Linked DNA regions of Homo sapiens. The protein of the gene in region 1 purifies or fractionates together with the protein of each later gene. This does not show direct contact. Each region holds a gene or a part of one and is shown on either strand. Other genes may lie near its edges. The genes, in order: MTRFR and XDH.

Region 1 (3,810 bases):
GTATGTTTTTTGGGGGGTGTTGAAGCGTCTTGTTTTGTCATATTACCAGGGTTTGTTCATTTGGGTAGGCTCTGTCAGAGGGAAGGTCTAGGGCTGAAGGCTGTTCAGATTCTTTTGTCCCATGGGGTGTTCTCTTCATGTAGTACTCTGCCCCTTTTCCTATGGATGTGGCTTCCTATGAGCCAAACTTGCAGTGATTGTTGTCTCTCTTCTGGGTCTAGCCACCCAGCGAATCTTCCCAGTTCCAGGCTGGTACTGGAGGTTATCTGCAGAGTCCTGTGATGTGAACCATCTATGGGTCTCTCAGCCATGGCTACCAGTGCCTGTTCGGTGGAGGTGGCAGAGGGTACAATGGAGCTTTGGTGGGTTAATGGTCTATTTTTTTTGCTGGTTGGCCTCCTGCCAGGAGGTGGTCCTTTCCAGAAAGCATCAGCTGTGGTAATATGGGGAGGAACCAGCAGTGGGCGGGGCCCTAGAACTCCCAAGATTTATTTGCCCTTTGTCTTCCTGCCAGGGTGCATAGGGAAGGACCATCAGGTGGGGGTGGAGCTAGGCGTGTCTGAGCTCAGACTCTCCTTGGGCGGGTCTTGCTGCGGCTGCTGTAGGGAATGTGGGTGAGATTCCCAGGTCACTGGAGTCGTGTACCTAGGAGAGTTATGGCTGCCTCTGCTGAGTCATGCAGGTTGTCAGGGAAGTGGGGGAAAGCTGGCAGTCACAGGCCTCACCCAGCTCCCACACAAACCCAAGGGCCGGTCTTACTCCCACCGTGTTCCCCCACAACTGCCCCGAGTCTGTTTCCAGGCAGAGGGTGAGACTGGCTTGAAAATTTGCCCCAAGGCTGTGCCCCTCCCAGCAGCGAAAGAAAAGGGCTGTAGTTCTTCCCCCACCTGTGAAGTCTGCATGCTGGATTCGTGCAGTTGCCCAAGTTCTGGCCAGGAGGCTTCTCACCCTGTTTAAATTGTTACGAAGTTCGACTAGAGAATTCTTCTCCCTGTGGAGTTTTATCCCTTGCTCCTCTGGCCACCCTCCCGATGGATCCCTGTGGTGCCAGGCAGGAATGGGCCTTCTGGGGACCCAGCGAGCTCCCACGGCCTTTCTGCTGCTTCCTCTACCCCTGTAGTTCGCTCTGCTGAGTCTGACTTAGCTCCAGGTAAAGTTGGAAATTTCTCCTGCAAACAGACCTTCAGCCTCTCCAGTGGGGGGGTGTGTGTTCGGGAGAGGAGGATCTCCCTTTCCCACTTCCACAGTTGGGGCACTCACAGTATTTGGGGGTCTCCCGGGCCCTGCAGGAGCAATCCGCTTCCTTCAGAGGGTCTGTGGGTCCTCTCAGGATTGCTGGTTTGTTCTTGCAGTTGATCTAGAGCTAAAATTCACAATGCAAGCCTCTGCATGCTGCTCTGTCTGAAGCTACAATCTAGTCCTGCCTCCTGTCTGCTATGATCCCAGGAGCTCCCATGCAAATAAATTATGATCACAAGGTCCCAAAATAGGCTGTCTAGAGCTGAGGAGCAAGGAGAGCCAGTCTGAGTCCCAAAACTGAAGAACGTGGAGTCTGATGTTCAAGGGCAGGGAGCATCCAGCACTGGAGAAAGATGTAGGCAGAGAGTCTAGGCCCATCTCATCTGTCTTTTAATATCTTCTCTAACTAACCTGTAAGCTCCAAGAAGACAGTCCAGCTCTTTTTCATCTCATGTCCCTTACTGTACCTAACAAGGACCTTATTAAAAGTTGACTGGCTGGATGCAGTGGCTCACGCCTGTAATCCCAGAACTTTGGGAGGCTGAAGCAGGTGGATTACTTGACCTTAGGGAGTTCAAGACCAGCCTGGGCAATATGGCGAAACCCCATCTCTACAAAAAGTAATTACTCAGATGTGGTGGTGTCTGCCTGTAGTCTTCACCTACTAGGGAGCCTGAGGTGACAGAATCGCCTGACCCTGGGGAAGTCAAGGCTGCAGTGAGCTGTGATCGCGCCACTGCAGTCCAGCCTGGGCGACAGAGTGGGACTCTGTCTCAAAAAAAAAAAAAAAATTAGTTGACTTGGTAGTTCCAACGATGAGTACCAGTTGGACCACGTTGTTGGCAGTGCGTCCAGGGAACAGATGTTCACATTCAAATCCATGAAACTGGAAACAAAAAACAACAATCATGACATTGATTGATAGTGATGTTTACTATGTCAGACTGTTTAAGCTCAGCTATAAAATAGACTACTCAGCCCTGGGTGGGGGTGGGGGGTGGCTCACACTTGTAATCCCAGCACTTTGGGAGGCCGAGGTGGGCAGATCACCTGAGGTCAGGAATTCGAGACCAGCCTGGCCAACATGGTGAATCCCCGCCTCTACTAAAAATACAAAAATTAGCCGGGTGTGGTGGCACACGCCTGTAATCCCAGCTACTCAGGAGGCTGAGGCAGGAGAATCACTTGAACCTGGGAGGCGGAGGTTGCAGTGAGCCAAGATCGCGCCATCGCACTCCAGCCTGGGCGACAGAGCGAGATTCCGTCTCAAAAAATAAAATAGACTCTCATACTGTCATCTTTACATTTTGATTTCAGAGATTCTCAAACATTTAAATACTGGCACTTGACCCAGATCCTAATTTTTGCTTGATGCACTATTTACCTGTATCAAATTACAGTCCGTTCCTTTGAATTTTTTTTTTTTTTTTTTTTTTTTTTTTTTTTTTTTTGAGACACTGTCTCGCTCTGTTGTCCAGGCTGGAGTGCAGTGGCTCTGCCTCAGCCTCCCGAGTAGCTGGGATTACAGGCACCCACCACCAAGCCCGGCTAATTTTTGTATTTTTAGTAGAGATAGTTTCATCATCTTGGCCAGGCTGGTCTTGAACTCCTGACCTTGTGATCCACCTGCCTCGGCCTCCCAAAGTGCTTGGATTACAGGTGTGAGCCACCATGCCCGGCCTGAATTTCACACTCAAAACCTCTCCTTTCTGAGAAAACAGCACCCCCGGGTGCTTGGAAGATATTTTTGGTCTATTGCAAGAAAATATGTATTAGCTGGCAGGGCATGTCCTGGTAACATGGCAGACAGTGCAAGGCTGAGGAGAGGGGCGTCTTGCTGAATAATGTGTCTCTACTCATTTCCTAAATTCCCTCGGTAACAGATGGGTCATCATTTGAATTGCTTTATAAAAAGCTGTCTTTGAATCTGAAGCATAATCTTGAGGGCAGATGCCTCTTACTGAAAGCTCTCCTTATTCATCTAACCCAGGTCCTCAGCCAGCAGAGCCACGTTCCTTATGAGCACCGTGGGTTTATTTCATTTTCCTACACCACTGACCCGAATATGCCCGGCGCCATGGGGACTCCGGCTTTGGGAGAAGCTGACGTTGTTATCCCCAGGAATAGCTGTCACTCCGGTCCAGATGGCAGGCAAGAAGGACTACCCTGCACTGCTTTCCTTGGATGAGAATGAACTCGAAGAGCAGTTTGTGAAAGGACACGGTCCAGGGGGCCAGGCAACCAACAAAACCAGCAACTGCGTGGTGCTGAAGCACATCCCCTCAGGCATCGTTGTAAAGGTAGATCACAGAAGGCCGCTGAGGGGAGAGGCCCCGCCCAAGGGTTCCACAGCCTCCAGAGATTTCTCCCAAGTGTGAATGGGATCAGCCGAAGTGCATTATTTTTCTGGCTTGGGCCACCCTCTACCAGCCAGGCAGTAGAGAGCACCGCAGATCTCGTCCCATCCCTGAGCCATTCCTCCCTAAGGCAGAACCTCCTACAACAGCCTGGGAAGCCTGTTTCCAGGATCTTTTGGAGCCAGGGTATGGCTGCCATCCTTGAATTTGGCAG
Region 2 (4,554 bases), on another chromosome or scaffold:
GATCCACCCACCTTGGCCTCCGAAAGTGCTGGGATTATAGGTGTGAGCCTCCATGCCCAGCCAACAACCAGTTTTATAGTGACCAACCATCCCAGTTTGCCCTGGACTGAAGGATTTACTAGGATCTCTGAGGCATTTGTCAGGGATTCAAGGCTAAAACTAGGATAGTCCAGGGCAAACTGGGATATTTGGTCAACCAACAAGTAAAGTTTCATCTCCTGGTTAAATTAAGGCTGTGGTGAGAGGGGGCATTGTGTTGATTGTGTGGTTGTCCTGTCAGTCTTCAGTTTCTCTAAGCTGTTGCTATATCAAGTACATCTGCCTAATACTCCTTTCTTCCCCCTCAGGTAGCCTGCTAGGGTTGTAGGGGAGGTGTCTTACTTAAGGAAGGCTGGCTGAGCCACTGTATGGGTCATTACAGGACAGAAGAAGACCAGAGTGAATGCTGGTCTCTGTGTGTTTTTTTTTTTTTTTTTTTTTTTTTTTTTGCGTGTGTGTGTGTGTTGAACTAAAGAACTGGTAGGGGCAGTTGGGAGGGTGCTGGACTGCAGAGAGCCCTTTAGTGCTGCTCCAGTGGACGTGCACATCTGTGTTTCCACTGAGAGTTAATGGATATTGGATGGGGAAAGGTTTTCAGCTATGTGTTACTGTAGCCTATGACTATGTGGTATGAGCATTTTAATTTATTTGGTGTTTTGAAATACTTTTATGAGTTACTCTGACAACTTGTCAAGGATATTTTCCTGAGAGAAACAAATAAAAGACAAATCTCAAAAATAGTTTGCTATTAGGATTTTATTTGTTGAGATGTTGAAGATGTCTTTTCAACAGTGATACATGTTTTGGTTCTTTGCAAATTTACAAGGCACTCCCAAAATGTCATTTGTCCCTCATTCTTCTATTCTTGATATCATTCTATGATCCTGTACAGGATGAAAGCAACTGAGTTCTGAAGGTAGTAAGTAACATGCTGAGGTCAAATGCCAGGATTTGAGTCAGGTTCATGGGGCTCCATGTCCTGTGACCTCTCTGCTCCACCAGGCTGTGAAAGAATGACTCTTGCATTCATGCAGTCAGTCTGTGTTGCTGTAAACCTGAATGGTAAAATGACAAATGTAGACACAGAGGGTGTGAATCAGCTCTATTAGCAGTGACTCTGAGAATAGTCCTTTCCCTCCTCTGTCTTCCCCTTCTCTGTCTTGCAGCAAGTGGGAGGACGAAGCAGGTTTCATAAGAGCAGCGCCCAAGACCCACAGTCGCCTAGTGCCAAGTCAACAACCTTACTGATATCTGGATGTAGTTTCCTGTGCTCTTTGACACAGGTGTGGAGATTGTAATTTGCTGTGTGTGATTGTTTGCACTTCCTTGATTATGTAAACCAGTGGCTTTTGCCAAGAACTCTTCATGCCCTGAAGCTCTGAGCTGGTTCCCTCCCATTGGTGGACCTTATTTCATTTTATTGGGAGGCGTAACTTTCAGGTCACAGAGCAGTGATAACTACCTGCCAGTGTCTCTTAGGAGTGAGGTACCTGGAGTTCGGGGACCCCAACCTGTGACAATGACAGCAGACAAATTGGTTTTCTTTGTGAATGGCAGAAAGGTAAGTAGGAGCTGACCTTTGGTTTTGTGTCCCTTCTCCCTGGGAGGGGAAATGTGTCCTCTGGCAGAGCCATATCTTGTTCTCTGTCTTTCCTGTCCCCTCTTACTTGTTCTGTCTTTCTCTCTCTCGCTTTAAAGGTGTCGCTGCATTTTGGTAACATTAGGGAAGAAGACCTTCTCGGGGCTAGAGCACAGACAAGATACTCAGAGGCCAAAGAATGAGGGAGAGAGAGGCAAGCAGAGAGGCATCTGTGAGCTAGCTGCCAACTCTCTGCAGTAGTGGAGATTGGCACAGAATGAGAAAGGGGAGTTGAGTTCTAGGTGAGATTTGAGGTCATCACCACACTTCTATTTCTGTCTTTAATCAAATATATCCTAAAATTTACGTTGCTCTCTTTACAGAGAGAAGGAACAGGAATGTGTTTTCCTGCTTTTATCAGGATATAAGATGTACGCAGCCTTTGATTCTAATATATTATATATATAGGTTTAACAGCCAGTCCTGATTCACTGTGAGGTGACATATACTGACACCTTGTGGCAAACCACAATTTTTTTTTCATAAAGGGCATCTCCTGCATTCCCCCCACTCCCCACCCACACACAGTGAGTTCTACATGTAAGCTGCAAATCTGTTACCTACTTGAATTTACCTTATTGGTACACAGGGACTTAGGGAAGGTGACATGGGTACCAGCCCTTGGACAAGAGTGAGAATCTTTGCAAATTTTAATGTGGTGCAGAGAGAGAGGGGGCAAGCATATTACATGGTCACTAGCCTCCATTTGCCCTCCTACAACACTGCTGAGATGCTCATACCTGTTCAACTTCCCACTTAGGAATGAAAAGGATAGTAAAAGAGTCCCATAGTTGCACATTGTAACTTACTGTGTGGACTGTGCGTGATGAATGTGCCCAAAGTGTCCCCCAAAGAAGGGCAATTTTATTTGTCTTTCTATATTGGCATTTTTGCATTGAGTTGAGAAACTTTTGATGTAATTTTGAGTGACTTTTGGTATAATTTTCAAGAACAATAATGTGCTTCACTGGACTCCTAGGTCTTAAATTTCCAGGATGTGTTTGGGTGACTGTAAAAGAAATTTCATGAACTGTTTCAACGTCAGTGCTCCAAAGATTGATGGACTCTCTTTGAGTGGTGCCTTTGGGAAGTGCTGGGGAATGGGGACAGCCATGTTCTTCTGGGTTCAGAGTTTCCTCTCTGAGCTGCATCCTTTTCAGGGTTGGCACCTGGTACCAACCCAAGAAGTAGGGCAAAGCTTTCAAGTGTAAGATTTTGCATCCAGCATTTCAAACAACTTCTTTCCTTCAGCAATTACATTGTAGAAATCTAGGAAACCATTGTGCAATTGGCTTTCTAGGAGAGCTACTTACACAAAGCCATCTCTGGAATTTTTATTAGTAATTTTTACATTGGGTAAACAGCTAGATTCAATGACGTCCAAGGTCATGTCTTACTCTGAGGTTTTATTATTTATTAAACCAAACCATTGGTTAACCTGTAAAAGTATAAGTTTCTGCTCTTCTTCAGGGATGGCTTGCTGTTATGCACTAAATCTAGAAAGAAGAATTTCAAGGTAAATCTGGCTTGGGGAAAATTATTTTCCCTTGCATTTTACTTTCACTTTAGGAGAGTAATTTTAAATTTTTCGATGGTACCATCACATCAAATCCTATTATTTCTAGAAGCTTCTACTACTGCCAGTTTCTGTGATGAATATCCATGTTTGTAATTTATAATGATGTAGCATCTTCAGAAACTGCAAGAAAGGTAGAGGGGCAATGCAGAAAGTAATTATGTGAAAGCAATGCTGTAAAAACAAGACCAAGCAAGGGAATTCCTGGGTAAACAATGGCAGCTGTGAGAAAGTTGTCCTCATTTTTATTCAGAAGATATTCTAGACCTTTTGTTACAGGAATTGTGCAAAGTAGTTACCAAAGAAGCTGTAAGAACTTAGTGACTCTTTTTTTTTATTATTATACTTTAAGTTCTAGGGTACATGTGGACAACGTGCAGGCTTGTTACATATGTACACATGTGCCATGTTGGTTTGCTGCACCCATTAACTCGTCATTTACATTAGGTATATCTCCTAATGCTATCCCTCCCCTCTCCCCCCACCCCACGACAGGCCCCGGTGTGTGATGTTCCCCTTCCTGTGTCCAAGTGTTCTCATTGTTCAATTCCTACCTATGAGTGAGAACATGCAGTGTTTGGTTTTTAAATGTGAGCCTACTCCTCTCCTTGTTTTGTACCACTGTCCAGGACTCTGGCTTCACTAAATGGGGTCCTGCAGAAGGTGTTCGATGCAAGAAGTCGAATACCTCTAGGGCCTTCTGTGGTGGTGATGAGCCTTGATGACTATTGTTTTCATTCACATCTTCTTTTGTTCTAGAGTCAGAGTCAAAGGGAAAGAGCTGTCCAGTATTTTATTTTTATTGTAATGACAGCCTTTTTGCAAGGCAGCATTCTAGCTTTTCTGAGTAGTCACTCTGTCTAGCTGAGACTGTGGCACCTGGAAGAATCTGGGAGGATCTGGCAGGTTGGGTGCAGCCAAAGGTGTCCAGGAGTGATCCCCACAAGAAGTGAGTGTCAGCTACAGAGATCGTCACGGTGACTTTCACTCACTCACTCACTCACTCACTCACTTACTCATCATTCACTTGCTCACTCCCCATATAGTCAACATTTATCAAGCTCCTTCTGAGGCCTCAGACAACAGGATATGCACTGGGGGAATAAGATCTCCAAGATCAGGCATTTGCCATTCTGGAGCCCATATACTAGTTAGAGAGATGGATTATAATTAGACAAAGTAATACCTTCTGAAATGTATTTCACAGAAAACTAGCAGCATGAGATGCTCTTCTTGGATATTCTTAAACCACTTAGCACAGTGCATGGTATACAGTAGGTGTCCAACTAGTGTGGATGGA

What was found.
Region 2: the proteins of MTRFR (region 1) and XDH purify together in Homo sapiens (affinity purification with mass spectrometry; one large-scale study listed by BioGRID and IntAct). This does not show direct contact.

What each region holds. Positions count from the first base shown.
Region 1 is NC_000012.12:123,250,418-123,254,227, forward strand, and holds part of MTRFR (mitochondrial translation release factor in rescue), read left to right. Parts: intron 1-3,229; 5' UTR 3,230-3,257; coding exon 3,258-3,539; intron 3,540-3,810. UniProt on the Homo sapiens protein: Part of a mitoribosome-associated quality control pathway that prevents aberrant translation by responding to interruptions during elongation.
Region 2 is NC_000002.12:31,411,671-31,416,224, reverse strand, and holds the start of XDH (xanthine dehydrogenase/oxidase), read left to right. Parts: upstream 1-1,482; 5' UTR 1,483-1,558; coding exon 1,559-1,600; intron 1,601-4,554. UniProt on the Homo sapiens protein: Key enzyme in purine degradation. Catalyzes the oxidation of hypoxanthine to xanthine. Catalyzes the oxidation of xanthine to uric acid. Contributes to the generation of reactive oxygen species. Has also low oxidase activity towards aldehydes (in vitro).